Linked DNA regions of Homo sapiens: region 1 is linked to region 2. The links come from fine-mapping of genetic effects on gene expression. A gene starts in region 2. The other region holds a variant in brackets. All regions are shown on one strand. Distances are from middle to middle. Region 1 has its middle 38 kb from the start of SAYSD1. Region 2 holds the start of SAYSD1 (SAYSVFN motif domain containing 1).

Region 1 (16,122 bases), 38 kb before region 2:
CACTCACACTGCCTTTTCTGCATCTTGCTGAGATCTTCTTTACCTGGAACCTTCGCTGGCTCCCCTTTGCCTGCTGAGCCAAATCCAGGTGCTTCAAGTTGGCACTCAAAGTCCCTTTAGTCTGTCTTCTCCCTACCCTTCCAGCCCTCTGTCTTCCTCCATCTTCGTGACACCTCCCTGGTCACAATGGGAGGAACCATCGTCTCCTGTGAGGGCCTGGAGTTTTCTGCCTAGGTGTTTTTGTGCTTGTGATTCCTTCTGCCCAGTGTGCCCACCCCCTACTCTTCTCTGACTGCTTACATCCTGCTGATTGGTGCATTTGACCACTGCTGCTTATTGAGCATTTTGCTAAAGATGCCCCAACAGAAGGAAACACACCCCTGTCCTGGGGAGACAAGTAGCTGAAATACTAGGTAATGTATGCTAAATGCCTGACCATAAGGGCTTGGCAATTCAGAGAAGGGAAGGCAAGTACGTTGAGAGAGAATCAGAGAAATTTCCTTCAAGGCCTCAGCCAAATTGCCTCGTGGAAGCAGACCTACCTCTCAATAGCCTAAAGAGTGGCTGTGTATATATGTTTGGTGGTGGGATGACAGAGAGATGGCACATCTAGGAACTCTACCATTAGCTTATGAAGACAGCTTAGTGAACTCCTTGGTGACTAGTAATATTTCTTCATCTGTATCGTAGTGAGCTAGTTTAATAAATAATTCTTTGTTTTGATTAATCAGAGAAAAGAGACTACATCATCTCAGAGTTCAAGAGATCCGGGAGGAAAAATGCCAGGTATATCTCACACAGATTTTACAAAAGTGAAAGGAAAGGTATATAGGTACTCATTACCTGACTCTGAAAGAGAAAATGGTTGAAAGAGTTTGAGGAATGAAAATCGAGCCTCATGATGGCAAATTATTACTTGAGGAAGAAAAAAGAATGGAATGTGTCTTCTTTATCTTTCTATCCCCAATGCCCACATCAGCAATGTGCACTTCATAGGTGAGTATTTGGCTCTCTGTGTTTGTTCTTGAGTTATCAAAAAAAGTGGAGTGGAAAATTATTGGTTTAGTTTTGGAACCCACAAGTATGCACACAGAAGCTTGCCTAGAAGAGACGTATGACTGCAGCACTCCCACCTTGTGGTAGTATTCATGAATTACAGGCTAAACTTTCATGGAAACCTAACTTTTTTTTTTTTTTAAATGGAGTTTTGCTCTTGTTGCCCAGGCTGGAATGCAGTGGCGCGATCTTGGCTCACCACAACCTCCGCCTCCCGGTTTCAAGCGATTCTCCTGCCTCAGTCTCCCGAGTAGCTGGGATTACAGGCATGTGCCACCACGCCCGGCTAATTTTGTATTTTTAGTAGAGATGGGGTTTCTCTATGTTGGTCAGTCTGGTCTCAAACTCCCGACCTCAGGTGATCTGCCCACCTCGGCCTCCCAAAGTGCTGGGATTACAGGCATGCGCCACCACGCCCAGCTAATTTTGTATTTTTAGTAGAGATGGGGTTTCTCCATGTTGGTCAGGCTGGTCTCGAACTCCCGACCTCAGGTGATCCGCCCGCCTCGGCTTCCCAAAGTGCTGGGATGACAGGCGTGAGCCACCGCGCCCAGCCTAAGATGTAACTTCTTGAGTATTAAAGTATCTGTCCCTTACAAAGATTTTGCTAGCACTTCCCTGCCAGTTCCTCCTTCTCTCCGAGATCTCAGCTAGCAGGGCCCCCACTAATGCTTCTAAGTTATGTCATTTTCGAGATTCTCTTCTTAATGCATTGAGGTCTTCAAACCTATTTAAAATGCAAAATGATCATTTGGTGTTATCACTGAAGCCTCTAGGACCCTCTCCAAAATAGGTTTCATTCTGGGATCCAGAACAGGTGTTTTTAACTTGGGATCCACAGATGGGCTTCAGGGGGCGCATGAACCCTTTGAAATTGTGAAAGTGTATGAACATATGCATATGTCTTTTTTTTTTTATTTGAGGAGGGTATCTACATCATTTGCCCAGATTCTCGAAGGGGTCTGTGACTACAAAAAGATGACAAAATCCCTGTTCCAGGGTGACACATGCCAAAGCTGACTCTAAAAGGACAGGGACTTGTTGTTTAAATAAACAAGACAGAAAAATGTTGAAGATATTTTTGAACTTCTAAACATGATACGAGAATTTTTTTTTTCGGAGTCACTGTTGCCTAGGCTGGAGTGCAGTGGCGCGATCTCGGCTCACTGCAAGCTCCGCCTCCCGGGTTCACGCCGTTCTCCTGCCTCAGCCTCCCGAGTAGCTGGGTCTACAGGCGCCCGCCACCACGCCCTGCTAATTTTTTGTATTTTTAGTAGAGGCGGGATTTCACTGTGTTAGCCAGGATGGTCTCGATCTCCTGACCTCGTGATCCACCTGCCTTGGCCTCCCAAAGTGCTGGGATTATAGCCGTGAGCCACCGCGCCCAGCACATGATACAAGATTTTATCTCTCTTCCTTTCCTCTGCTTCCCTGCTCTTGACACCCTCATCTCCCCAAGACTCCTCCCTACCCCTGTCATGGGGGAGGGAATTCAAACTTCATTTGCAGATAAGTGACCATCTGTCCTTCCAAAGGTTTATGGAGAAAAGGAAGAATTGTATAGCCTCCTGGGAAGACAGATTAATCCAGATTAGCTCTAGGCAAAGGAATCAGCCTATTCAAGATAACACCATTTAAAAAAAAAAAAAAAAAACCCCTCCTTATTTGTCTCCAGATCAGGTGCCTGAGCTCTGCATGGGAAGCTGATGAATGATTTAGTTATGCTTTCCGTTTGGGGAAAGTGCCTGCTTTTATCTCTGTGATTGCTTCTTTATTTGGCAACCCACAAACTTATCTGTTTTCCCTAATATAATTGCCTGGTCCCTCTCCGCAGCTCTCAGTAATGTCAGCAGGGCTATCTTTCCGTTTTCCTCTGGAGTTCAATATTGTTTAAGCAAACTAATTGGACTCTATTTCATTTTGCTTTATTTTCCTGCACCAGACCTAGCAATTGGCTGTTTGGGTTTTGCTTGTTTTGTTCCTTCACAAAGTTTCACTGATGAAGTTCCCAAGGAAATTGGATATTGTTCTTTCTCCCCTTTTTCTTTTCTTTCCTTATGTAAGCATTTATCTTCCACCTGCAGTGGGCCAGGCATAGCTCTAGATGAGATGGAATTTAGAGAGGTAAATAAGGCTCAGGCCTGTCTTCAGGGACAAATTTTGTCCTTCCCTAGCCAGAGCCTCCAGTGACAACTGTGCAGGTTGTTACCGTACAAGGGACAGCAGGGGGCTGAGATCCAGCTGCCACTCTGCTTGCCACTTATGCACCCTGATGCAGGCCCACGTCCATGGAGAGGAAGTGGTGCCTTTTCCTACTTGCAAAAAGGCACCTTATGGGCTAGAAGCAGTTCTACCCCTAGTACATAGTCGTTATCTACTAGAATGAAGGAATGTTAATATCCTGGATATCCATTTAGGAGTCTAGCATTTTTAAGTGACGTCCTGAATTTGCAGGAGCTTCTCTGAACCTCAGTTTCCTAATCTGTGTAATGAGGGTGTTGGACTCAAAGATCTGTAGGGGCCCATTCACTTCAGATGCTCAAATACTATTATTCATCAAAGTTAACTGACGTGATTCCACCCATCTCTCTGTTTCGAGAAGATGAGGCATCAGGGTGAGTGGCAGGGTGAAGGTATTGTGGGAAAGAGATGCCACCTGGTGAGACCATTTCCAGCAAAACTACACTCATGACACATTTCTGCCTTCAACAAAGACCTTTTCCCTCCCACCCAAGAGTCAAGGTATTTACATGTCCCACTTCAGAGAGCAGCCATCCTATTATTATAGATGCAATCAATAGTCAGCGCCTGCAGCCAGCCGTGCATCTCAGGGAGGCATGGGCAGATCCCCCCACTGCCTAGACATGAAATATTATTATGGCCATAAAGACTAATGAACTTCTCCTTCCCAGCCCCTGACCCAACTGAGGGGTGGTGGATGTTTATGTAAGCAAAGCACCAGCAGCTCAAATGGGAGGCAGCAAACAATTATAAATATTGACCTTGGCCACATGGAGAGGGAATAAAGCCATAGTCAAGGTATTAAAACAGTACAGTGTGGGTGGAGTGCTGACGCTGGAAGAGGGTGATAGCTCTGCTGGGGAGTCATTCTGGGGACCCTGTGCTGGGTGCTTGAACAGTTAGGCCAGGGGTTTTTAGCTCCATGGGAACACCTTGCTTTTTTCAGCTTCATTTATTTTATCTTTTAAACCCAGCCCTCTGCCAAAGAGGACGTGCAATGGCTAGCAATTAAGACATGTCAAAGTGAACTTAAAATGAACCAGAGGCTGGGCACAGTGGCTCATACCTGTAATCCTAGCACTTTGGGAGGCCAAGAGGGGAGGATCATTTGAGCCCAGAAGTTCAAGACCAGCCTGGGCAACATAGTGAGACCCCATCTCTACAAAAATAAAAATAAAAAATTAGACAGGCATGGTGGCACGTGCCTGTAATCCCAGCTACTCAGGAGGTTGAGGCAGGAGAATTGCTTGAACCTGGAAGGTTGAGGCTGCAGTGAGCCGTGATCTCACCACTGCACTCCAGCTTGAGCAACAAAGTGAGATCCTGTGTAAAAAAAATAAAACAAACAAAAAATGAACTGGAAAGTTGTAAAGCCTCATTGTAGGCATCATCGTTCATTTATTTTTTTTTTCATTTGTTAATCTACTTGCTGAAATAACAATTTGTGACTTCACACCCAACGCTGTGCCTGGTACTCAATTTAATTCATATGGTCCTTGTTGCTTAGGAGTTTACAAGGTGGCCAAGGATAAAGATGTAGATTAAGAAACTGCAGAGAAACTAGAGATGCTGGTTTAGGGACTCAGGATGGGCTAAGAGTGAAAAGACCCAGGCTTTAGTCCCTACTGCTCTGCTTCTGACTTGTGTGACCTCAGAGCCTCAATTTCCTCCAATGTAAAATGGGTAATGGGACCAGGTCAGTGGTTTTTAATCTTTAGTGGGCATTAGAGTTCTCTAGGGAACTTGTTAAAGCTGCAGATGTCTGGGAGTCCCAGAGAGTCTGCTTTAAAATGTCTGTAGAGGAGGCTGGCGTCTGCACTTTAAAACTCTCCCCACCCCAACTCTGGTGGGGTTCTGATGCCAGAGTATCTGGACATACTTTGAAAAATTCAGGGGCCAAATACTCTAAATAAAGGTTATTCTCTGGAAAAAAAAAAAAAAAAGTTCGCGGTAGGCAGAGGGTAACAGAATGGGAAAATGAAAGGGTCAAGGAAGTACAGAGAAGGATGGTTTCAGTGTGTGGGGTGGGCCAGGATCTGGGGCTCCTTAGAGGAGCTGAGGCCCCAGCTACCCCTTGCAAGATGTACAAGGCTTGGTTGTTGCCGTGGTTTGGCTTTCTTCAATTCTCTGAGTAGGGTAGCTGTGCTTTCTAGCTGTCGGTACCATTCCGGGAATAAGTACACAGGGAGCTGTTGACAAACGTTTTGGGATTGCTATTTGTATTCATCAATGAAGTCATTTTCTACTGTGAGAATGGGAACAATTTGTGTGTATGTGTGTGTGTTTGAATTTAGGAAAGAAAAATTATTCAAACATATTATATTTTTCCTAACACGTAAAAACATGTATCAAGACCAGGAATGGTGGCTTACACCCGTAATCCCAACACTTTGGGAGGCCAAGGTGGGCGGATCACTTGAGGTCAGGAGTTTGAGACCAGCCTGGTCAAAGTGGTAAAACCCCGTCTCTACAAAAAATACAAAAATTAGCCAGGTGTGGTGGCATCCACCTGTAGTCCCAGCTCCTTGGGGGTTGCTGAGGCAGGAGGATCACTTGAGCCCAGGAGGTCGAGGCTGCAGTGAGCCATGTTTGCACCACTTCACTCCAGTCTGGGCAAGAAATGAGACCCTGTCTCAAAAAATAAAAATAAAATAAAAAAATAAAGACGTATCAATGACCCAAACTACAGGAACTAAAACTAGAACAGGTATGTAGCAGGATAAAGCTTCAGAGGTGATCTTCATGTTAATAAATACAAATGTTTTCCCTTCTACAAAATTCAGAGTCGACTTGCTTGGTCAGCAAAAAAAAAAAAAAAAAAAAAAAAAAAGAACATTTAAAAATAGTAAGCACAAGTCTAATATTCAAGGTAAAGGCATATTTCATTTTGAAGCATATGAAAAGTTTTAAAAATTCTATTCAGGGACTCAGGGTAAAAGTCCGAGAGAAGCCCCTGAAATGTCCTGTATACGACATTGAGAACAAATGCATGTAGGAGGCAGTGCAGACACTGAAATGTGAAGGCCTCTCCTTGGATGGCCATGGGGTTGGGAGGAGTCAGTGGGAACCAGAAGGAATACATCATTTTAGGCCAAGAAACTATGGATCTAGAAAGTGGATGTCCATGAAATACTTGAAGGACCCTTATTCCTGATGAAAGTCTAGGGAATCTTCTCTTGGTCAGGAAGAACAGGCCCAGGAGGACTCTGGGAGGAAAAAGTATGGAGGTGCCTAAGGTTAGGTTAGGAGGTGGTACATTCACCCAGGACAATGGCATCCTCTCTTTGGTGAGATCATGCTGGTACTCCTTGGACAATATCAATTATGTCATCCATCGTGGAATGTGAGAGGCTTCCAGAGCCAGGTAGAGGCTGACTGACAGTTGCAAATTCCCTTCTAGATCCCACTCTTAGAGAGAAAAGGATTCGCCCAGATAGCCCATGATGACTTGTGGGATGGAGCCAGGGCTGGCCTTCTGGGTATGCGGTGTGTGCAGTGGCACATGGCCCTGTGCTCAGGCCTCATGCTTGGTCTAATGCTCTGCTGTTGCCTTCTTGAAACTCTTCATACTTTTCTCTTTGAATTTGTGTTTTGGTTTTCTGAGCACAGAATTCTGGTGGGCCTTCTATGCGTGGGAGTTAAGTGAGACAAGGCACAAAGCAAGAGCAACGTAAGTGTGTTATGTGTATTGAGTGAGTAAGCTGAGACCACACTTTCCCTTTGAACCAGAACTTGCTTTAAATGCAGAAAGAAGGCAACGGTGTTCTAAGAAACATGAAGGACCAAGGAACTCTGTCACATCCTCATTCACATCCTGTTCACTCATGCCACCTCCCTGTATTTGCCAGCCATAGACACTGACAATTATGACACAGAAGGAGAGGGAAAGACAGGACAGCACATGGTTCCTTTTACCCTCAGTCCTTCCTCACTCCTCAGTCATCTGAAGAGAGAGCATGCTGGTGGAACGTAGGTATATTGGAAGTGAAATAAAAAGAGTTTAGTTAGTTCTGTGCAACATTTCCATTTTTCTGATAAGAACAAAATAATATATACATATATAAGCTAAAAAAATGAGAATTGTATCATTTCAGTGATTCTGCATATGAGAGAAATGCTGTTATATTTGCATTTAAAATTGCCATTGGTGGGCTGGGTATGGTGGTTCAGGTCTGTAATCCCCTTGGGAGGCCAAGGCAGGATGATCACTTGAGGCCAGGAGTTCAAAATCAGCCCGGGAAACATAGCGAGACCACGTCTCTACAAAAAAAAAAAATAAAAAAAAAAAAAAATAAGTCAGGCATGGTGGCATGCACCTATAGTCCCAGCTACTCAGGGGACTAAAGCAGGAGGATTGCTTGAGCCCAGGAATTTGAGGCTGCAGTGAGCTATGATTGCACCTCTGCATTCCAGCCTGGGGAACAGCAAGACTCTGTCTCTAAATACATAAGTAAAACTGCCATTAGATAATGTAAAGATGAACGGTATAATTACAATTTTTAATTTTTCTTTACTGAGATTTACCTTAAGTGGCAAGTAAAAAATACCATGCCAAGTTGACAGAAAGCACCAAACCTCAGAAGAAAGGAAAGAGCTATATATTTTAGTACCTTCAGGGGCATTTTTTCCTGCTCTTTTTTTTTTTTTTGAGACACAGTCTCACTTTGTCTCCCAGGCTGGACTGCAGTGGAACAATCTTGGCTCACTGCAGCCTTGACCTCCCAGGTTCAAGTGATCCTCCTGCCTCAGTCCCCTAGGTAGCTGGGACTACAAGTGTGTGCCACCATGCCCAGCTAATTTTTTTTTTTTTTTTTTTGTATTTTAGGTAGTGGCTGGGTTTTTCCATGTTGCCCAGGCTTTGCTTTTCGATCAAGAGACACACATTTTTATTTTGTACTGGACCCAGCAACTCATGTAGCAGACCCTGGGGAGAGGACACCTCCAGTTCTGGCAGGTGGGCCAAAAGATCAGCTTTGGCACAGGAGAGCTCTCTATAATAGGATTTGGTAATCGTGTCTTCCTGGAGTTATAGCCACTGGTGTTTGAAGCATTGGTGTCTTGGTTTTCCTTGTATTAATTTCTGTCCGGGTCTGGCAGTTTGCCTCTTCTTTCCAACTAAAGCTCTTTCTGCAGCACCAGCGGTATGCCTGCTGTCACGGACTTTCCGACCATTAAGAGCAATCTAGGTCTTATTAGATCTCATCCCCCACCCACCCTGTAATTCATCCTCCAGTTCTTAAATTACTTGCTGATGAGCTTTCACTTCCTCTGCTGCTGAGAGCTCTTGCTCTCCCTCTTCCTATCCATTCTCCTGCGGAGCCATGCCTCTCTGCCTGTCCAGGGCATTTAGAACTTGTGCTTCAGCTACAAGGCTGTGCATCCATTTTTCAGGTGAGCTTTGATGAAATGCTGTGTCCAAGGTCCATGTCCAACTTCTCTGTGCTTCCTGCTTTTGCCTAGCTGACACGTCATCACACAGTCGGAATTGGAAATGGACTCCACTGTTTCCAACTGATCTTAATTTTGTTGAAGCGGTAGCTACTGTCTGTCTTTTCTGACTTTTTGTCTTCTCACCCTGATCATCAGGTGTTTCAGCAGCTCAGTGTAATTATTCAAAATGGGAGTTTCATCCTCTTTGTGCAATAGAGCTGCTTCTAGGACTTTCTGAGATTTCAAATACAATGTAATTCATTTCCTGAGCTCAGTATTTCATTCATTACAACCTTGTCCTTCCCAAATAATAATTGTTCCATGCCGACTTAAGTCTGGAATTTTTTCTTCTTGAACTTAGTAGTGTCAAGACATTGTCTCTTCACTTTGCTTAGATAATCTTTATTAGGGAGCTCCCCTGTCTGGAAGTTTTAAAATAAAATTACCTGTAAAAATGTGTAACCTGGCCGGACACGGTGGCTCACACCTGTTATCTCAACACTTTGGGAGTCTGAGGTGGGCGGATCATGAGGTCAGGAATTTGAGACCAGCCTGACCAACATGGTGAAACCCCATCTCTACTAAAAATACAAAAATCAGCCAGGCTTGGTGGCAGGTGCCTGTAATCCCAGCTACTCAGGAGGCTGAAGCAGGAGAATTGCTTGAACCTGGGAGGCAGAGAGCAGTGAGCCCAGATCATGCCATTGCACTCCAGCCTGGGTGACAGAGCGAAACTCCATCTCAAAAGAAAAACAGAAAAAGGATGTGTAACCTTTCCATAGAGTTTCAGCTTTCCAGTCTTCTTGATATTCTGTTCCCCAAACTGTAAGCACATCTTTCTGTGCGTTTGAATTGTTTCTTCGAGTCAACTGATTGTATCTTTAAGCCCAGATACTTCCTCAGGAAGATGTTTATTTTAGGTCTTGATTTCTCTAAAAGATATCTTTGCTGCTTTGATATTCTGTTCTGAATTGAATAACTTTTTATTTTGGAAACTCACACCTACAGAAAAAGTTGAAAGATTAGTATAATGAATACCCCATATACTCCTCACCAATATTCACTCATTATTTCCATTTCACTGTATTTTATTTTTCCTTAGGTATGACATACACTTTTTTGCTGACAAATTTGGAAGCAAAGCGTACATTTTGTGGAACTCCACCCCTATATATTTCAACATAAATCTTCTA[T/G]AAATATAAGGATGCTTTCCTACACAACCATAATACCATGCTCATACCTCAGAAAATTAACAATAATTCCAAAATCTAAAATACAAGCCCTATTAAAATGTTCTTATTTGTCCCCAAAATTAATCTGATAACTTTTAAATGATTTATTTTAATTCTGCCAAGATCATTTTAAATTTCTGTGCAATCCATTGTTCAATCACTTGACATTTCCACTCATTATAGAAAAAGTCTTCCCCTGAAGAAAATGGCAAGTGTCCCACTCCCAAGAAGGGTAAACATTCCATATTCCCAGGGCATCTTATAAAAATCTAGCCCGACCTTACCTTCTCAGGCAGACTGGACAGCAGTATCGTGGTATATCAATTTAGAAATTCTTAATCTCCACTGCTGTCAGACGTGGTTGCTTTTCTGCATTTATTTCTTGGCTGTATTCTGAAACACTGGTGTTTCCTAGCTCCTGTACCATTAAGTTACCAGACTCTTTCAAAACATTTAAATCCTCTTCAGGCATTTCCATTCTGACAATGGACAGTCAATTTCTTTACTGGGCAATGTTCCTTGTGTAATTCGTTATTATCTTCTGTTTTGAGCATCATTAGTGTTGAAGTTGGTCCTCTAATAGTTTCTCCAGGAAGGGTTTATAAGAACAATCTTTCCTAATTTCTTGCATACACAAAAATGTTTGATTTTACATTTTTAAAAAATAAAAAGCCAGGTGTAAAAATTTTAGATCACACTTGCTTTCTTTGGGGAGCTTTTAGGATTAGTTCCACTGTCTTCTGGGGTTGCATGCTAATTTGGAGAAGCCTAAAGTTAACAAATCACTTCTCTTAGCCTTTTTGCCTGGCTGACCCAAAGACTCTTTATCTCTGAAGTACAGTAATTTTGCTAGGATATGTCTCAGTGATGAGGACTTTTGTTCATTTCTTCTGGAATCTGTTGTTCCTTTTCAATAGCTAGATTAATGTTCTCCTTGGTTTCTGAAACATTTTGATAAATTGTATCCTTAAATATTTGTTCTGTTACATGATTTCTGTTTTTTTCTTCAGAGCCACCACTTATTGGTTTATTGTGTTTCATTGGCTTTTCTTGTCCTGCTCTTCATTGTTTCTTGTGTATTTTTCATTGAGGTGTAATTACATACAAAAACTGCACATGTTTACGTGTACAGTTTGATAGATCAGTTTCAACATATGCATGTACCCATGAAACCATTGCCCCAATCAAATTGTGAGCATATTCATCACCCCAAAAAGTTTCCATGTACCCTTTATAATGTCTCCCTGTATCCCTTCCTACCCTTTTTTCCATTCCCATACATCACTGGTTTGTTTTCTTTCACTTTAGTTGGCATTTTTCTAAAATTTTCTACAAATGGCACCATACAATACATACTGTCTGTTTGGTCTGGCTTTTTTACCCAGTATAATTTTTTATGAGATTCATCCATGTTGTTGCATGTATCAGTAGAAGTGGTGAGAGCAGACCTCCTTGCCTTGTACCTGATCTTAGGTGAGAACTTTTCCTCTAATCCTTCAGATAGTTCTTGTTCCACCTGGCCTCAGGTAATTGCCTCACGTGCATTCACTGATCAGTACATAGCAGAAGACTCAAGCCAGCCCTCTATAGATCTCTGGAGGGAGCACTCTCTCTCTGTCTCTCACTCTCTCTCTCTCTCTCTCTCTCTCTGTGTGTGTGTGTGTGTGTGTGTGTGTGTGTGAGAGAGAGAGAGAGAAACAGAGAGACAGAGACAGGGAGAGACAGACAGAGAGACAGACAGAGACAGAGAAGCTCTCTTCTCTCTGTTATTATTTTCTGAAAACTCTAACCCTCTTAGCCTTTCAGGTCTTCCAGCTGAACTAAGAGACCACCATGCTATATCCAGGTTTTCCCCTCTCTGGGCCATGACTTAAAAACTCTCTCTGAGCAGTAACCTGGAGCAATTGTAGGGCTCATGTTGTTTATTTCCCATCTCTCAGAGATCACTGAATGTCACTGTATGATATCCAATATTTTAAACATCATTGCTTCTAATTATTTTATTTGCTTTTTTAGTTAATTTTGTTTTTTCAGGCAGAGGGTAAATCCAGTCCCTGTTAGTCCATCTTGTTTAGAAGCAGAAATCACCTTTATAGACTTTTGATGAATAAACTTTAAATGAAGAGTGTTTTTCCTTGATTAAATACTTGCAGGTGTTCATGCAGGAAGTCAGGTTCCAAGCCAGCAGGAACTTTCCTTATAACCCAGGGATGTCAGTAGGAGTCTTTACTTCTCTTCACATCATTCATACAGACAGCCAATGGCCTGGTACTAAAGAAAGCTTCTTTGCTCCCCCTCCTACACTGATTATTTCCTGCAGACCTGGCTTGCCTGTGTCATTCTTCATGCCACCCCTTCTTTCTTCCCCAGGACCAAACTGGATGCAGGGAACCTCCAATTCCTGTCTGAGCACCCAATTCTCACTCTTATAAACAAAAGATTTGTGTTTTAAAACTTCAGGTGTAGGCAGGCGTGGTGGCTCACACCTGTAATCGCAGCATTTTGGGAGGCTGAGGCAGGCAGATCACGTGAGGTCAGGAGTTTGAGATCAGCTTGGCCAACATGGCAAAACCCCGTCTCTACTAAAAATACAAAAATTAGCTGGGAGTGATGGCGCATGGCTGTGACCCCAGCTAGTCAGAGGCTGAGGCAGGAGAATTGCTTCAACCTGGGAGGCAGAGGTTGCAGTGAGTCGAGATCATGCCACTGCACTCCAGCCTGGGCAACACAGTAAGACTCCATCTCAAAAAACAAACAAACAAACAAACAACAACAAAAGAACTTCAGGTGTGCCATAACACCTGGGATAGGTGCGCTTTGCCAGCTCCCTGAGATCTGCAACCTCTGCACTCTCTCTTCTCTTCCCTCCCTGGCTCTTCCTCTGTTTCTACATCTTTTGACATTCTTCCTCCTATTTAGGGCTTCAGCTTTCTTACAGTTTTATAAAGATAGAATTTGAATTTCTGTTTCTTGTTCTGCTTGTTGCTTTTAGGTTTCCTGAGTTTCCAGGAAACATCTTTGTTGCTTTTAGGTGATTTCCAAGAAAATATTAACTTGAGGCCATCATCTGCAAACTGGAAGTCAGGAGCAATACAATTGCTATTGTTGCTCTGAATGTATTTTTTACATCTGTATTAAGCCTGACACAGTCTCTGACCCCTCAGAGGTGCTCAATTAATGTTTGAAGAATGACTTTTGAACAAATTCAGCAATCCCCTCGTAACCTGGGTTTACAATAGTTAGGTGGACCATTGCTTTCTTTTCACCTGGGATGTCCCCAAATACATGGTCCACCTTTCCTGCACTGAGTGTGGAGCTCCCCAAGCACTGAAAGAGCTGTTGAAAGTCTAGGAAGATGAGACTGTCTGAAGTCTCTCTTCTAGGAGTATGGGCTTTTGAGTTGGACAAGCCTGAATTTGAAATTCACCTATACCATTTACTACTTCTTGTTGGACTTCATATTAGGACTCTCCAGAGAAACAGAACCAACAGGAGATATACATATATATGAGACAGAGAGAGAGAGGGAGAGAGTGCACTCTTTTAAGGAATTGGCCCACATAATTTTGGGGGCTGGTAAGTTCAAAACCTGCTGGGCGAGGCCAGTGGTTCACACTCGTAATCCCAGCACTTTGAGAGGCTGAGGCAGGAGAATTGCCTGAGCCCAAGAGTTCGAGACCAGCCTGGGCAACATGGCAAGACCCCATCTCTAAACAAAAACAAAAACAAAAATCTGCTGGATAGGCCAACAGGTCCCAGCAGTTTATGCTGCAATCTTGAGTTCGAAGGCGGTCTGGAGATTGAATTCCTTTTCACTCAGGGGATGTCTTCAAAAGTTTTCATGTGATTGGATTAGGCCCACTCACTATGGAGAGTAATCAGCTTTACTCAAAATCTATTGATTTAAATGTTAATCATATCTAAAAAATACCTTCATAGCAACATCTAGACTGGTGTCTGACCAAATGACTGGCCACTATCACCTAGTTGACACACAAAATTCACCATCACAGGCTTTGAGTCATTTATTCAGTGTCACTGAACCTCAGTTTTCTCATCTGTAAGAGTGGGTTATTATTATACCTTCCTCAGAGGGCTGCGGTGAAAATCAAATTGGATAAATATGTAAACCATCTAACACAGCATCTGGCAAATTGAAGGCAATAAATTCAAGCTACTCTTGTTTTGTCTAGAAGAGATGCCTAAGACAGTCTTCTGGAATCCAGCCCATGCCCTTCCATGTACCCCCATCCCCTGTCTTACAAGGGCTGGAAGGTTCTAAATTACTTTTTTAGACTCCCTTGGAGCTAGAGAGATTTAGGCTGAGATACATTCAGGCAATTTTAGAAGGAAGAAGTTAACAAGAAGGGGCAGATGTGGTTGCAGTAGCCAGACACCAAGTTCCAGTTGTTGGTCACCAGCTTCATGGGCTCACAACAACCATGGTGACAGCAGCAGGGGCAGCAACAGCAGTTCCTGACCTCTGACCTGCAGCTGTGGAAATGTGATCTTGAACCATTAGCCTCGGGGTGGCCCCTGACATCTGATTGCTTGGATTAAGTCTGACTGGGGCTTGACAGAGTGGTTTCTGCTTTGTGCCCTGACTCCTACTTCTACAAAAGACCTCACTAAAAAGTGGCTTCATGATGCTCTCCTCTCTGCATTTACCCAGTAGGTTCAGGAAGGTTCCCTGGATCCTCCTTATCAGGCCCATCAGAGAGAGACAAGGCCCTGTGATTAGAGCTGTCGTGATGACCTAAGAAGCAGAGAAAGAATCAGCAATAGCCAGCCTGGCACAGAACATTGCATTAACTGCATTGGTGCTCTTGCATTGATTTAAAATCTTATCATAGAACAGAGTCCCACTAACCAGAATCTTCCATGAATATGATGTCCTGCCTCTGGATGTTGTTGAGCTCGGGGCTGGGTGTCTGTCTCTCACCAGCCAGAGGGCCCAGCCAGATTTTATTGCATTGCGATATTTATAGCTGTAAACACTTGGGTGCCTTTAAAGGAATGTCTCATTTTAAAAACCCCACGTTTCTCAAATTAGGACACAAACCATAAACTTTTCATCATAGGCTAGCAAAAAGTAGCTTCTTGACCTCCTCTGATCCACTCCCCACTGTAGTCCAGTTTCAGGATGGGGATAAGAAAAAGTGATTTATAAAACTGCCCCCAGCACTGGTAGATGAGAACCACAGACACAAGGTTATTGGGCTGGTGGGTGCTGACTTCATAATGAACCCAAAGTTGAGCCCAAAGTTGAAGGTTAAGAAAACAGAGACAGATGGACCAGGAAACATGAAGACGGACAGGATATGACTGCTGCAGGCAGGGAGGGAAACACATCCTTAGCGTTTTAATAACAACCTCATCAAGTGCCTGCTGCGGATGTTTCACATGTGATCTTATTTAATCCTCACAACAACCCTATAAACTAGGATTATTAATACCATTTTACTAACGACAAAACTGAGGTTTGGAGAGATTAAGAGACTTCCTCCGGGATCCTGGCACAAGCATGGATCCCCCGGGATCCATGAGGTGAATCTAGAGAGTGTGAGTGCAGAGCCTGGCTTGGAACACGCTGTTGATTCTGGGCATGTTCAAAGGTGTTACACCAAAGAAGCAGATAAAAACCAGTTTGGAAAATAACAAGTTTTGGAAATTCTGGGTTAATCAAAGTGAAACAGGTTGGATGTTTTGTGTGCTTGTTTTCTGCTGCAGAACTTCTCAGAGCCTTTAATGATGCTACCGTGCTTTGTGAGTCTTCAAAAAGAGGAGCAATTATGCAGTTCTTCTTGAATACCTTTGAGCGCTGAACACATTTCTCATAGGGCATCTTCAGGGCTTAGTATCCCTCAAAGCACATTTTGGGAAATCCCACTTAGCTGAACTCAGGCCAAACTGTGGTTCATCAGTGTGGCTTGACCTAAGTGGGGGTGAGTATGTGACTGAGATATGTTTGCTTCTGTCTACTGTCCTGCACTATCATTGTAGAGGAGAGCATGGTTGCCTGTCTGAATTCTGGGCCACTAGTGACTCCAGTCCAACATCTCCAGGAAATGTGAAGTGGGTGAGAAAACTGGCAGTGGTGGAAGAGAAGGAGCCAGGAGGCAGAGAGACTGATGGAGAGACAGGGCCTTTGAGAGATGTCCAG
Region 2 (16,122 bases):
AAAAAAAAAATAGCCAGGCATGGTGATGCACACCTGTAGTCCCAGCTACTTGAGAGGTTCAGACAGAGGATTGCTTGAGCCCAGGAGTTCAAGACTGCAGTGAATTATAATCGCCAGGGCACTCTGGTCTGGGCAACAGAGCAAGACCCTGTCCCTAAAAAGAAAAAAAAAAGTGGGGGAAAAAAGCCATCATCATGTACAGCAACAGTGAGATTAAGGGGATATGGGTAGCCATACCGGTACCTTATGCTACTCATCATAGCTACAACTAAGACTTCTAGACTCAAATGCCCCAAAGTCTTCCATTCTTTCCTCCTAGTTTAGTCTACTTGGATTGAAATATGAAGCTCTCCAATTTCCCTCTACAGTACCCTGACAAGTAGACAGTCAGTCCCTGCTTGAATACTGCTAGTGTCAGGGAACTTATTGCCTCTGCAAGGCAGCACATTCTATTGCTGAAATAACTGAGATGCCAATTTTTTTTTTTTTTTTTTAAGATTCCACAGTTGTCATCTTGTAATTTCCAACTAAGTTCTACCCCTTGGAGTCCCACAGAATGATTCTCCTTCACCACAACAGCACTTTTGTGTATGTGTGTGTGCGTGCGCAACAAGGCTGTTTATTTCACCTGGATGCAGGCGGGCTGAGTCCGAAAAAGGAGTCAGCAAAGGGTGGTGGGATTATCATTTAGTTCTTGCAGGTTTGGGATAGGTGTACAAAGTACCTTCTTAAGAGTGGGGGGAGGGGAGGGGAGAATATTACAAAGTACCTTAAGGGCGGGGGAGAATATGTCTATCAGGGTGGGGCAGGAACAAATCACAATGGTGGAATGTTATCAGTTAAGGCTATTTTCACTTCTTTTGTGGATCTTCAGTTGCTTCGGGCCATCTGGATGTATACGTGCAGGTCATAGGGGATATGATGGCTTAGCTTGGGCTCAGAGGCCTGACATTCCTGTCTTCTTACATTAATAAGAAAAACAAAACAAAATGGTGGTGAAGTGTTGAGGTGGTGAAAATTTTGGGGGGATAATGGGCGATGTTTCTCAGGGCTGCTTCAAGCGGGATTAGGGGCGGCATGGGAACCTAGAGTGGGAGAGATTAAACTGAAGCAAGATTTTGGGGTAAGGGGTGATATTGTGGGGTTGTTAGAAGGAGCATTTGTTATATAGAATTATTGGTGATGGCCTGTATGCGGTTTTGTATGAATTGAGAAACTAAGCGGAAGACACAAGGTCCGAATAAGAGAAGGAGAAAAACAGGTATTAAAGGACTAAGAATTGGGAGGACCCAGGACATCCAATTAGAGAGTGCCCAAGGGGGTTCAGCATAATTATTTGCTTGGTTGGCTAGTTTTTGGGCTCTATCCTTGAGTTTTTTATGTTGTCATATACCAGGCCAGATTGATTTAGGTAAAAACAACACTCTTCATTTAAAAATATACAGAGTCTCCTTTTTTAGCAGTGAGTAAGTCGAGGCCTTGGCGATCCTGGAGGAAAGAGAAATGCAAAGCCAGCAATTGTTTGTTAAAAAAGGACTAGAAACGGCTAGGAAAGAGTGACTGAGATTGATAGTATGGTGGAGATAGCTGGGGAGAGGTAGAGGGTAGCATAAGAATGGGAACGAGAATAAGAGTATAAAACTAAGGAATAGGACTTTATCAGGGTGAAAGTATTGGAGGGTGCCCTGCCAGCAAAGATCATCTATCCACTCTAAGAGGGAGTTAAGAGTGGCAGTTTGGGGATAGCACCAGGAGATATCAGCTGTGATGGCTTGGAGAAACAGTGTAAACTGGCAGTGTAAACAAGAGCAGGGCATTTATAAGCAGTTGAGAATGGTGAATAGGAGTATGACTAGACAGAAGATAGTAGGGATGACAAGTTTTTGGGGCGCAGTCCAAGTAGTGGGGGTGACTGCGTAAAGCCCTGTTGCAAAAAGGAGGGTAAGGATGAATAGACTTAATAGAATGAAGGGATGTATTAGGCTCATGAGGGTTATTACGTTCTTCAGAAATTCGAGTGAGTTTAAGGGAAGTAGGGGAGAGTACCTGTGACTTCCAGGAGGAAGAGGAGAAATCAGGTTGGCTGTCCAATGGACACAGTTTTATTCTGGAACAGTGAACCCAATGGGGAGGGTCCTGCAGGCAGACTGCAATTGGGGTACTATGGATGACTAAGGAGGGTCTGGTCCATCGAGGTTGTAGAGTTTGAGGGGTCAGATTCTTAACAAGAACTGATCGTCCAGCTAGGGTGTCTTCATATGGCTGGGAATCTGGAGTAGGCAAGAGAAGATTAGCAGCCTGGCGAATTTCCTGTCTAGCCTGTTGGAAGACTGGAAGATAGTCGCCCAGAGGGCCACAACAGCACTTCTAACAGAGTTTCTAAAACAAACTGGTATGTTTTCACCGTGAATCTCCCTCTCTGGCCCAAATCACTCACTGCCTTTACCATTCTTACTACAATGTGGTCTTTAGACCAGTGGTTCTCAACCAGGGGCAAACTTGCCTCTTAGGAGGCATTTGGCATTATCTAGAGACATTTTTGGTTGTTACATCTAAGGGAGAAGCTACCGGCAACTAGTGGGTGGTGGCCAGGATGCTGCTAAGAATCCTACGAGACACAGGACAACCCCCACAACGATTTTCTGGCCCAAAACATCAAAAGTGCCAAGGCTGAGAAATCCTGCTCTAGACACATCATTATCCAGGCTACCCCCCTCTGCTTTATATGGTTTGTCATATAAAGCATAGTGCTCAGAACTTGGTATGTGGTACCTGCAAGGATAGGACCAAAGAGAGCATGAATACATGGGGGTATCAAGAATACATCCTTGGGCTGGGTGCAGTGGCTCATGCCTGTAATCCCAGCACTTTGGGAGGCTGAGGAAGGCAGATCACCTGAGGTGAGGAGTTCAAGACCAGCCTGGCCAACATGGCAAAACCCCATCTCTACAAAAAATATAAAAAATTAGCCAGGTGTGGCGGCTCGTGCCTGTAGTCCCAGCTACTTGGGAGGCTGAGACACGAGAATCGCTTGAACCCGAGAAGCGGAGGTTGCAGTGAGCTGAGATCGTGCCGCTGTACTCCAACCTGGGTGACAGAGTGAGACTGTCTCAAAAAAAAAAAAACTATATCCTCTCTCACTTTGAAAATGGGATTCATAGTAGCAGCTGAAACATTCCCCATATAACCCTCCTCCTACCCAGTCTGTGGTCAGGGAAAGGCTCCAAGTCCTATTGAAACAAATTGCTCCCAAGCCAATGATTAAGAAACAAAAACAATAATATAAAAACATAAATGCAAATCTAGAAGGAAGCACAGTTCCCTCTGAGCATCCCCACAATGCTTTAATCGTAATAAATTGAATCAAATTCATTTTGGTTTATTTTTTACCCTAAAGGCATAACTGCAGATCTTCTCTACCAAATTTTTGTCACCTGAATAAACGATAAATTCTCTCTCATATTTTCACCCAAGACACTCCTAAAAATATCAAACAGGACAGAGCAATGTTGATCCATTTCTTGACCCTTTTTGGGTAAGGGTGAATTGACCAGCTATGAATCCAGTTAATTGTAGATTACATTTATTTACCTGATACAAGGAAACACCAGGTCCAGATGGTTTTACTACTAAGTCCGACCAAAATATTAAAGAAACAGTTAATTCCTATTTTGTTCAAACTGTTCTAGAAAATTTGGGTGGGGGGTGTGGAAGATGGAGGCACACTTCAGCTTATTTCATAAGGCTAGCAAAATCTATCTAAAATTGAGGACAGCACATGAAAAGAAAATTATAGGAAAATCTCACTAATGAACAAAAGATGTAAAATTTCTAGAAAATTCTCAAACTGAATTTAGCTTTGAGTTTTATGTTTTATAAAGTGATTTGAGTTTTATTTATTCCATGAATGGAGGATGATTTAACAACAGAAAATCGATTACTATACCCCACCACACTAATAGATTAAAGGAGTGGGGAATCAAGAATGAGCATACAGGGACACAGGGAACTTAAAATGTTCTTCTTGGGTATTGGGTATGTATGTATTGGTTAGCATTTGCTGTGTAACATGCAACTGCAAAATTTCAGTTATGTAAAATAAGCATTTGTTTTCATACATTTTAGGGTAAGCTGGGGGTTAGCTATTTGAGGCTGTGCTCAGTTGGGCAGCTCAGCTTTAAACTGCAAGTCTCTGGGTCAGCCAGGTGACCACAACCTAGATGTCTTTCATTATTCTTGGATTAGCTGGCTAGCTGTTGCAAGTTCATCTCATGGAAATGTGGAATATTAAGAGAATTTATTTAACAGGACAAACACACTTCAAGTTCCTGCTCACGTAGTTTCTGCCATCATCCCATTTGGCCAAAGCAATCTGCATGGCTGAGTTTACAGTCAAGGAATGGGGAAGTCTACTCTGCCTTTTACGGCGTGGATACAGATAGGAATATAGAATCGGGCCAATGACTCAATTCTATAACAAGGCCTGTATTAGTGCATTCTTGCATTGCTATGAAGAAACACCTGAGACTGGGTAATTTATAAAGAGGTTTAATTGGTTCACAGTTCTGCAGGCTATATAGGAAGCATAGCTGGGGAGGCCTCAGGAAACTTATAATCATGGCAGAAGGTGAAGGGAAAGCATGCAGGTCTTACATGGCTGGAGCAGGAGGAAGAGAGAAGGGGCAGGAAAGTGCCACAATTTTTTTTTTTTCCAAGACAGGGTCTCGCTCTGTTGCCCGGGCTGGAGTGTAGTGGCACGATCTCACCTCACGGCAACCTCCACCTCCTGGGTTCACCCAATTCTCATGCCTCAGTCTCCCGAGTAGCTAGGATTACAGGCGTGTGCCACCATGCCCAGCTAATTTTTATGTTTTTAGTAGAGACAAGGTTTCACCATGTTGGCCAGGCTGGTCTCAAACCCCTTGTCTCAAGTGATCCACCTGCCTTGGCCTCCCAAAGTGCTGGGATTACAGGCGTGAGACACTGCACCCAGCCATGCCACACACTTTTACACAACCAGATCTAGTGAGAACTCTATCACAAGACAGCACTAGGAGGATGGTGCTAAACCATTAGAAAAAAACTCATGATCCAATCTCACCAGGCCGCACCTCCACACTGGGGATTACAATTTGACATGAAATTTGGGCAGGGACACAGATCCAAACCATATCATGTGGGTATTTTATTTATAACTTATATGTATGACACATACACATTATATATGTTATGTATATGGCATATACATTATATATATGTAAAATGTGGCATTTACAAAATATTTCATAATAAAAATTAATGAAATTCACACATTAAGCACATTTTGGGGACCCTTCTTATTTACTAGTCTCATAATCCCGTCCAAAGAGGAAATAAAGTTGGCTTGGCAGGAGTTGTTCTTCATGATGGTCTCTTTCATCTTTTCTTTTTTCTATTCTTTTAACCTCTTCCAAAAAGGATTTAAAGAGGCTTACAAAGCACCAAGTAAAAGTAAATTCATAATAAATAAAACAAAGCAAAAAGAAAATAAGGTTTCCAAAGCAAGACAGAGCAGGAACCACATTAGCTCTGGCCTGGATGTTCTGTTTGCCTCTTCTGATCCTCTTTCCACCCTTCTCTACCTGTTCTATGCTCCCTGAAGGGCTCCTGTGTCTCCTTGCTTCTCCTATAGCTACAGGGCTCACTGGGTTCTGATAACTGCTCTGTCCTCCTGATGCTTTGGGCCTAGAGACAGGTAGCACTTCCTGTGAACCATCCCTTGCTGGCTTCCTTCATCCTGCCACACCTTTGTAACTTACTCCTTCACTAAGCCCTTCTTACTTCACCCTTTGGAAGGTGCCACGTTTCCTGTCAGGGACCCTGACTGCAACCGCCCACAAATTGTATGCCTTAATTCTATACACCTGCAAGATGCGGGCCTAAGGTCTTAGAGTCATTATCAAGTGGGAGACAAAATCGGTTAAAGAATCCCATCTCTCAAGAGAAGCAGACATACTCCTGACACCAAAATGGGCAAGAAATTTCCTCTTGTGGTTTCTCAAAGAGAGGACATTGTGGTGTAATAATCCCATTCTTTTCTCTTACAAACCATCTCTAATCCACTCAGGGCTCAGCCCTCAAATCTCTTCTTATCCACACTCACTGTTTGATCTTATCTAGTCTTACAGCTTTAAATATACACATGCTGATGACTCCCAGTGTGTGCCTCCGGTCCTGACTTTCCCCTCAAATCATTTTCACTATCTAACTGCCTATTTTTTGGATATCCAATAGGCATCCCAAGTTCTTTGTATGTCCAAAACAAAACTTCCAGTGTTTATTCTGTAATTCTCTCCTCCCAGTGTGCCCTCATTTCAATAGAGGGCCCCAGCATCATTTGCCTGGTTGCTCAGGGCATGTGTGTATGTATATGGGGGGGCAGGAGGAGTGGGGTAGTAATGGAAGAAACCTGTCATCCTTTTTTTTTTTTTTTTTTTTTAATAGCGATGAGGTCTTGCTATGTTCCCCAGGCTGGTCTTGAACTCCTAGGTTCAAGCGATCCCCCTGCCTTGGCCTCCCAAAGTGCTGGGATTATAGGCGTGAGCCACGATGGCTGGCCCTGTCATCCTTGATACCTTTTTTCCTCACATTCCACATCCAATCCGTCTCACACCATGTTGGCTCAGGTCTTCAAAATACATTCAGAATCTGACCAATTCTCGTGACCTCCATCACTACCACTCTAGCTCAAACTACTACAGTTTCTCATTCTACCATATTTATTCCTAACTAGTTTCCCTTCTTCTATTCTTGCAATCTTCCAGGGTCCCACCTCCATCAGCCAGTGTAATCCTTTAAAAATATGTCATATCATATCATCTCCTGCTCAAAATCCACTAACTGCTTCCCACCACACTTAGTCTTCACCATGGCCTACAGGGCCTTACATGCACGATCTTGCCCCTGGCATCTTTATTTTCTGTCACTCTTTCCTCCCTCCCTCCCTCCCTCTCTCCCCCTCTCTCCCTCCTTCCCTCCTTCCCTCCCTCCCTCCCTGCCTCCCTCTCCCTCCTTCCAATCCAGTCATAACAGCCTCCCTGATGTTCTGTGAACAAGTCAAGCGTGCTATTTGAGGCCTCGGGACCTTTGCACTTGTTCCTCTGACTGAAACACTCCTGTTCAGATATCTACATACCTCACTCATTTAAGTCTATGCCCAAATGACAAACCTTCAGGGAGGTCTTCTCTAATACCTCCACCATTGCCTACTTTGCTTCACTTTTCTTCACAGCACTTATCAGTACCTGATATGACATGAAATATGTAGATACACATTTGTTTATTGTCTGTATTTCCATTTGGAGTGTAAGCTCTAAGAAAACAGGTTTTTGTTTGTTTTTTCCTTTCATCCCAGCATCCCCAGTGCCTGTGACTTTAGACAGAGCAGGCCCTAGGTAAACGTCTGTTAAATGAATGGATGACTCTGTTCTAATTTGTCTAATTTCTCGAGTCACCCTCAGCCAGATCCAACAAATATTTGAGTCTTAATTATGTAAGTGACACTTAGCTAGATGCTTACAGCTTTAAGAACGTATAAAACAGCCCCTAACCTGAACTGTGTCCTTTTGGGAGGGTACTGATTGGGAGAGGGCACAAGGAAACTCCCAGAGTACAGAAATGTTCTTTCTCTCCATCTGGGTGGTAGTTACACAGGTGCATACATAAGAGCAAATCTACTGAGTCATATTCTTAAGATGTGTATTTTATGTTGCACCCCAATAAAAGTTTTTGTTGTTGGTTTTTTTAAGGTTCTGACGTATCTAGACACAAAACGAGATAATTTCCCAACGTGGCAAGACCAATGATGGAGCTGCACAGCCTGCTTTGTGAGCAGTGAGAAAGTCACCCTCCAGGTACTAAGATTGGCATACCCTTTCCTTGATAAGAGAAAAAGGGTAAGATGTAGCCTGTTATTCCTCTGACGCTGGAATGTCGTAGAGATCACGGGCCTCTCCTAACCCCTGGAACCATCTTCTCACTGTGGCGCTGTTCATTGGGGCCCAGCAACAGAGATCCCGAATACAGGACGCTGGATCAGTGGGGCCTCGAGCCCTTAAGTGAGATGCAGCAAGGCAGAGCGGCCTTTGGGAGAGGGCAATGGGGCAGCCCTGTGCTTTAGACTTGGCTTGAGGAGGTGACACTGTGTCCACGTGCCTGTGAAGAGAGAACGGCTGAGTATACACGCGACCCGCCAGACTTCACAAACGGAGGAGACGCGGGTCACACCAGTGCGCATGCTCAGCAGGGGCTTCTGCCACGCAGGCGCACGGCGGCCGGCGCGGGCCGAGCGGAGGCAACTGCTGTGCGGCCTGCGGGCGCGCGCTCCCTTATCGGCCAACGGACGCGAGGCGCGCGCCATGGAACAGCGGTTAGCTGAGTTTCGGGCGGCGCGGAAACGGGCGGGTCTGGCGGCCCAACCCCCTGCTGCCAGTCAGGGCGCACAAACCCCAGGAGAGAAGGCGGAAGCAGCAGCGACTCTAAAGGCAGCCCCAGGCTGGCTAAAGCGGTTCCTGGTATGGAAACCTAGGCCCGCGAGTGCCCGGGCCCAGCCCGGCCTAGTTCAGGTGAGACGATGGAAACTTCGGCCCTAGGACCTGGCCTCGGAGCCACAGTCGAGGGCGCGGCCCTAGCTGCCGGGGGTGTGGCCCTAGCTGCCGGAGGCGGGGCTACTGGCCCCCCATCCTGATCGAGGGCCGGACCGCTCATCTCCGGCCACACGTGTCAGCACTGTTACCAGTTTTGACATTTTCTTTCCAGCCCGCGACCCACGCAGGTCCTGATTCCAGCGAGAGTCGAGGGTCCTGGGAGAAAGCACCTCTGCTCTTAAATTATTCACTCCGAATTGAGTTATCGTGACGCCCTGTGGCATTGGGAAACCTCTCCACAACCAAGTTGAGCCACAGCCCTCTGCTAATGGAGGAGGGTAAAAGGTCTAATTGGATACCGATCACAAGTAGCAGTAATTAAAACTTCATTTGATTCGCACCTGGGGCACATGCAGCTAGTAGCCCAGATAGCCTGTGACTTAGAAATGCGTTTGAATACAGAATTTACCAAAGTGTGGTAGCTGTAACTGCCGGTAGTGGCAGAAGCTTATTCCAGTTCCATAGTGAATGTTCAAGACACAAACAAAAAAAAGTGATTTAGTATGATAACCTTTTCACATTTAATTGTTTTGGTAATCTCTTGTTTTGCAGATGAATTTAATTTGCATCCTTTTGTGTTTTCATTTAGTTTTAACTCAGTAAAATGGTAAGGTGGCTTGCAGTGAGGTTGAAATGTCTATGTGGAAATACAAGACAAAACATATCAAGGGATGAGTGCTTTGTAACAATTTGTGCCCAGTGCTTTGTTCCTCATAAGTGCAATAAGAACTAAAAAATTCCTTTTAAAATGAAAATATACTGGAAGAAAAGTGTACCTTGCTCACCTTAAAATTATTTCCTGTAAGTTCATCTATTATTGCACAACATTTGATTTGAGGGAATTTTTAAAAATTACTGAACCTATTACTCAATTTTGATTTGATATTCTCAGTGATATACAGGATTCCAGCTGACTTGCAGAAAGGTGAAAAGAGCGCAGCAGAGTTCAGACAATCCATTTCCTTGTGTGCAGTTTGTGTTAATTGTCTTTGGATAATTTTATTGTTGACTAGAACTTTCTAAGTACAACACTTGCTTAAGATTTTAGAAACCATTTCCCTTATTCTTTTTCTCTCTGCAGTTAAAAAACAATGTCTAACCCATGCAATGAACTTTTGACTGTATGTCTCATTTCCAAAGGAATGAGATCATTGAGGTGGACCCAGAGAAACTGAATTCAGAGAAAAACTTCCATTATTGAGAACCCAAACGCTGATTGCCAGACAAAAGGATGAGAGGAAATGCTGGACCTCCAGTTTCTTGTTAATTGCTCTGTTTTTCCATAAGGGACTCTGCCTTAAGCTCATTTTCATTGACTTATCATTTCTGGGTTTGCTCTGGTGTGAAAATTCTCATTTAATTTTTTTTCTTCAGATTCTGCCTCTAGTTTAGAAAAGAAAAAGTCTAATTTACAATTCATGTCAGACAATTTTGATGGCACACTGTGGCCTGTCAGAGATTTCTTTAGCATTCTATTTTTTTAAATTATTTTTAATTTTTGTTTTTTTAATTGAAACAGCTTTATTGAAATAAGGTTTACATACTACAGAATTTATCTCTTTTAACATACAGTTCAAAGATTTTTAGTAAATTTATTGAGTCATGCAACCATCACTGCAACTTTAGAACGTCTCTATCACTCCAAGAAGACCCCTCTTGCACATTAGCAGTTACTACCCATTTCCAACCCCAGCCCCGCACAAATGTCAGTCTGCTTTCTATCTATACATTTGTCTTTTCCGGATGTTTCATGTAAATGGAATTATACAGTATGGTAAACACATTTTTTGTCTATTAATTTTTATATTCAACTAGGTTCAACATGTAGCCGTAGCCAAATATTTTAAATTTTCCTTCTGGAAGTTTGAAAATATTTATCTTTTTTGATACTTACTTCTCCTTCTGCTTTCTCTTTTTCATACTGAAACAGTCTTTTAAATGATTGCATTCATTGATTAATTCCTTATTTTTCCCTTCTAGCAGAAGACCTTCCTTTTCACTCTCAAGACAGCATCCTTGGATATTAATTACCTTTTGTTCATTATCCCCTTTCTTATGAGCACCATCTAGTTGTTGAAGCAACAGATTTTCATGTTGTAGTTGAGATATTCTCTCCTCTACGTAGTCCCACTTTCCAAAGGATTTACTTGGCTTAGGTCCTTTTGTACACTTTATAAAACCAAAACCTTTTCTCTGAGAGAATTTCTTGTGTCATGGAGTTTACTTTTTAGGGTATTGAATTCGAGCTTCGGAAAGTTGCTCAGTTAAAAACTCATTATTATCTTTTAGTTCAGAAATATCAGAACTCATTTTCTTTCTTGTAAAGAAACGTCTTGTGCTCTCTGTAAAGCAAGTTCTAGGTCTCTTTTTGTTTTCACACTTTGATCACACTCACTTATAGCAGCAGCCAGTCTAGCATGGAATGACTCAACTTCAGCTTCCAGTCTTTCCTTGTTTTGATTTTCCTTCTCCAGTTTAGACTTGAGCATTGTATTCTCAGTTTTGAGGTCGTTAAGCTGTTGACCATACTGGGATACTGTTTTTGTTAATGTTTTTCCATTCAGTTTTATAGTCTCTTGAAGGTCATCATTCATTTCTTTAACAATTTCAATGTCCTTTTTCCCTTTCGAGGTTCCTATTTTTTATTGTGTATACTTACATACACAATAAAGGCAATATCTCTCTTCAACAAGCAATTTTCATGCATCAGATCTTTTTTTTTCTTAAAGTATTTCTTCAAGCCTTCAATTCTATTTCTAGTGATCCGATAGTCAGTTTAAGCTGTTCTTTTACTTCAACTTCTTTCCTATGTTGCTCCACTTTCCTTTCTAACTCTTCCCTAATTTTTTCATATAACATATTAGCATTTCTTCTCATCTTCTTCTAAGCTGCAAACTGTAGAGTTCCTGTTTCCATTCTACTTTTTGATATTGAACTGTGACTTCGTTTCTTGTGTTTTGGATAGCTCCTTCAGTACACTAAACTCAGTTTTCATATTTCTTATTGTCTAGTGTAAGTTGTTCACAGATAATTTTTTTTAAGGTCCAGTGACTTTTCACATGAAAGAAATGCATTCTGGACTTCCATTAGGATACGAGAATCATTACAATCCATTCCATATTGCTTAATGAGCATCATAAACTTCTTACAATGAGGGTAAGGTTTCTCATGATCCTCTGAAGCTGTTTCAGAGGGCCGAGTTAAGTCATCAGGTTCATCTCTAAATGAGTTTGCTTTTTGACCTTTTTCTTTTCATTTGACATTTTCTTTGCAGGCCTAGCATACTCTTTGTTCTCCTTCCTAGGAAATCGCTGATGGTAAGTTTTTCCACTCTTTCTTTGTTGAATTAATTTATCATCATCGTCAGCAGATGTACTATCATATACGTTTTTTTGATACTTTTTTTTTTTAACTTTCGTGCTTCTTTCTAGCTTCTTCAACCTGTGGCTGTTTATTTTCACTTTCAAGCTTTTCCTGTTCTTCCTCTGATGTCACTTGTACTTCTTGTTCTGCTTTGGATGTTTGTTCGTTCTTCCTTTCTATTGCTTTCTTCACAACAGAATCTTTCATTTCCATGGTAGGCTTTAGGGAAGGATGTTTTTCAGGAGGCCCTTCTCCCTTTCCATTTACTATATATTTTTTCCTTTTTTATATGAAGGTCCAAGTAAAGACTTTGAAACACTCTCAGGGATACACTGCTTGGTAGTAAAAGTCAAGTCTTCATCATCTGGTTTAGGCCATGAGTCAACACACAGTTTTTTTTTAAATACTGAATGCAGATGCTTCAGAACTCCCAGAATCTTTTGCACTTGCTCCTCCTGTTTTCAAACTTGCATTCTTCTTGGATGCTTCTTCTGGGTTGTCATTTTGAAGACCATTTTCAAGTATCTTTTTTTTTTAATGTTGCAAAATTTGTTGTGAGTGCTTGTCAGACCACCAGAAATAGCATAATCTGCAGTCTGTTCATACATACTCTTGAGTAAAGACAATATTTTGTTGAAGAAGAATGCTAACTATACCTGACAAGCCATAATGTACAACAGGCATGAGAGCTGTTCTTTTCAACCTATCAACAGCATGTACATTTGCTTGTTTCTTCACTAAAATTCCACCTTTTGCTGTGTTTTGCAAACTATAGCAAGTAAAAGTGGTGTGTTTGCATCCTTGTTCAGCACTTCAGTATCCTTGTTCAGCACTTCAGTATTCACATGGTGTGAGGGCAGTTTTTCTGCCAGTAGTGTATTCTCATTATACACAGCATAGTGTAGTGCATTGTTGCTATAGACATCCATAAGATCTGGGTTGGTGCCACATTCTAGCAGAATGATGACACAAATCTCTTCTTGGCAATGTACAGCCTTCATCAAAGGCATCCTGTTTCATTTGTCACCAATGTCAGTCTGGCACTTTCAGTTCACCTGGAGAGTGACCACTTCCACATGGCCATTGGCACAGGCCAAATGTAAAGCAGTCGTGTTCATCCACAGATGAAGGAATACAGAAACTCCAGGATATTTGCACAATGGAATACTCTTCAGCCATCAAACTTTAGGACATCACCCCACTTCCAGCAACGTGGAGAGAGACCTGTTCATCCACAGATGAAGGGATACAGAAACTGTAGTATTCATTCACAATGGAATACCCTTCAGCTGTGCACATATACTGAAATCATATCACCTGGAGCCACACAGTTGAACCTGTTCATCCCTTGATGAAGGGATGACAAAACTGAAATATATATCCAGAATGGAATACCCTTCCACGACAGAAGTGGATGAAATCCTGTCATTTGCAGCCATGTGGAGAAACCTGTTCATCCGCAGATGAAGGGATAAAGAAACTGTAGTATATATACACAAATGGAATACTCTTCATCCAGAAAAATGTAATGAAATTACATCATTTGCAGCCACACTGTTGAACCTAGAGGACATCATGGTAAATGACCTGTCCTGTCCACCCACAGCTGAAGGGATAAAGAAACCACCATACAGATACACTATGGAATATGCTTCAGCCATAAAGCTTTGGGAAATCCTGTCATCCACAGCCATGTGGAGAAACCCAAGAAACCCAGAGGATATTAGGTCCAAGGAAATGAGCCTGGTAGAGGAAGTCCCACACCTTTTAATCTCAGGCATGGAGATTCCAAAAACTTTATCTCCTGTCCATCTACAGATGAAGGGATCAAGAAACTGTAATGTATATGCACAAAGAATACTCTTTGGCCATCAAAATAACTAAACCATGTCATTTGGAGCAACAAAGCCACTGCGGCCTCCATTTGGGCCAAGCTCTGACTGCAATGATGCCTCTGCCCCGACCCGGGCCTCGCTGTGACTGACAATGCCGCTGCATCTTTTCAGCAGTCATTGATGAGGAAGTATCTACATCCTCCTTCCCACTACCAGATTTTGCTTGGAGAAAAGCAGTTTCCTGAAATAATTCTGTGACGAGCTTCTTCCACATTAGGACAAAAATGCTGGTAACTTTTAAAAATTCCTACAGAAACCTCCTGCTTCCCTCTCCAGCCATATCCCAGGCAAGCCCCCAGCACACCACCCTGCCCCAGAACCCATTTCCCATACCCATCCACCACTCCTGACCTCCAGGCCTTGGCTCAGGCTGGCCTTCTGCTCAAAGGCTCTCCTTTGGAGTCGCCTGGCTAAGCACAGCTGTGCCTCACCCCCGCAAAATCTAGTAGTCATCTTGAATTTCTTCCTTTCCCTCACTATCATTCATTCATTCAACAAAAATCTTGTCATGTGCCCGCTGTGTTCCAGCTTTTGTTCTAAATCCTGGGAGACAGTGTAATTAAGACACACAAGTCCTACTCTTGTACAACTTGCATTTGAGCTTGGGGCAGCAGGGAAAGGAGGACAATAAACAAAACCAGATAAATGCTATGAAAGAAAAAAGATAAAACCAGTAGACTGTGATAGTGAATTAGGGGTGAGGGGAGCAGAGTACTATTTTAAATCAGCTGAGCAGGGAGAACTCACTAAGGAGGAGACATTTAACAAGAAGGAACCACCCTGGCAAAAACGGGGACTAAGCCAAGGGCACATACGGTGACATTTTTGCCGTTTGTAGTAGGAGGGGTCAACCAAGTGATATGAGGGGAAGGGAGCATTCCTCTCAGAGGGAACCACAAGTGCAGAGGCCCTAAGGTAAGAAGCAGCTTGATATTTGAGGAATGGCAGTGCCTTCCTTGGGCCATGCCTGTGTGTGATGTAACAGTCACAAACACTTCTTCACCCAGGTTTTACAGCAGAAGGGAACTGGTACTCCGACAAGTTCCAAATGAGGCAGAAGAATGTCCGTATCTCTCCTCTTGTTTGTTCCCTTCGTCAGTTTGTTTACCCCCCCACCCCCACACCCATCTACCTCTAGCTCCCTAACCTTTCTCCTGCCACCCCCCATAAAGGCCCCTAATTAAATAAAATATATTTTGGAGGAGACCATCCTAGGATCCGAGACTGACCTCATCTCTGCCTATCACTAGTTTTATGGCTTTAGGGAAATTACTTAACCTCTCAGTGTTTTCTTATCAGTAAGTTGGGAATAATAATGCCTGCTTCCTGGATTACCAGAGTTCATACATTGGAAGGCTCTCAGTAAATGGTGACATAGGAACATTCTTCTTTTTATACTCCCTAAATGATAAATTTAGTTTATTGTGAATCTCAGCATGTATATTCAGAATGTATTTTGTGTCCATCAGTCCACTATTTCCATCTGACTGCTGTCACCACCCTGGTCAATGTCTGGCTCTCTCTTGCTAGGCCTCCTCCCCAACCTTTTTAGCACCAGGGATTTCATGCTTTTGGTTAGTTCCCTGCTTAGACCTTCAGCTGTTTCCCATTTCCAGAATCTTCACTGCAACCTGCCTGGCCCTACTTTATCTGGCTCCCACCCTCATGCCCTCCCTCCTTAGCCCCGTCATCTCATGCTACTCTCCCCTTTGCCCAGAACACTGCCCAGATGCATTCTTCTTGGGCCAGAACGCATACTGTGCATGCATGTCAAATCTGAAACAGACATTTCTTTCTTTAATGAGTATCAGGGGTCAGGGATGTGGCTGATAATATAAGGGCCTCTCCAATCAGACTTTCTAATCTAACTGAAAAGATAATAATTACAATGTTGATGCTAAAAAAGAAGGTTCTGACAAAATAGAACTTCTGAAACATCATAAATCAGATGACCAGTATTTGTGATCCCCTTTTAAATATGCACGTGAAGAAGAATAGGGGATGTAACTGAAGAGATGAACTGAAAGTTCTGCTATGAATTGAGAACCTAAGTATGGGATGCCATGTTTGGATCTGGAGACACGTGGCTTCCTGGTACTTAAACAATCTGGCATCATACATGACATGACCTATAGTAAAAGAGAGACACTGTAGTGCTGAATAGTTTGGTGCTTAATGAA

Evidence for each region. PIP is the estimated chance that this variant, and not a neighbour inherited with it, causes the effect. A credible set is the group of variants that fine-mapping cannot tell apart.
Region 1: its variant is the best candidate, but not a certain one, in a credible set for the expression of SAYSD1 in whole blood (INTERVAL, PIP 0.89).

What each region holds. Positions count from the first base shown.
Region 1 is chr6:39,144,874-39,160,995 of GRCh38, reverse strand. No RefSeq gene overlaps it. Among named protein-coding and RNA genes, the nearest start is that of SAYSD1, 38 kb to the right of the region's middle. The variant T/G (reference allele first, on the strand shown) is at 9,921.
Region 2 is chr6:39,107,364-39,123,485 of GRCh38, reverse strand. It overlaps SAYSD1 (SAYSVFN motif domain containing 1), which reads left to right and starts at 8,300. Exons shown (of 2, transcript NM_018322.3): 1 at 8,300-8,603. The coding sequence starts at 8,397. It also overlaps the pseudogene ANKRD18EP. RefSeq lists an enhancer at 8,417-8,706.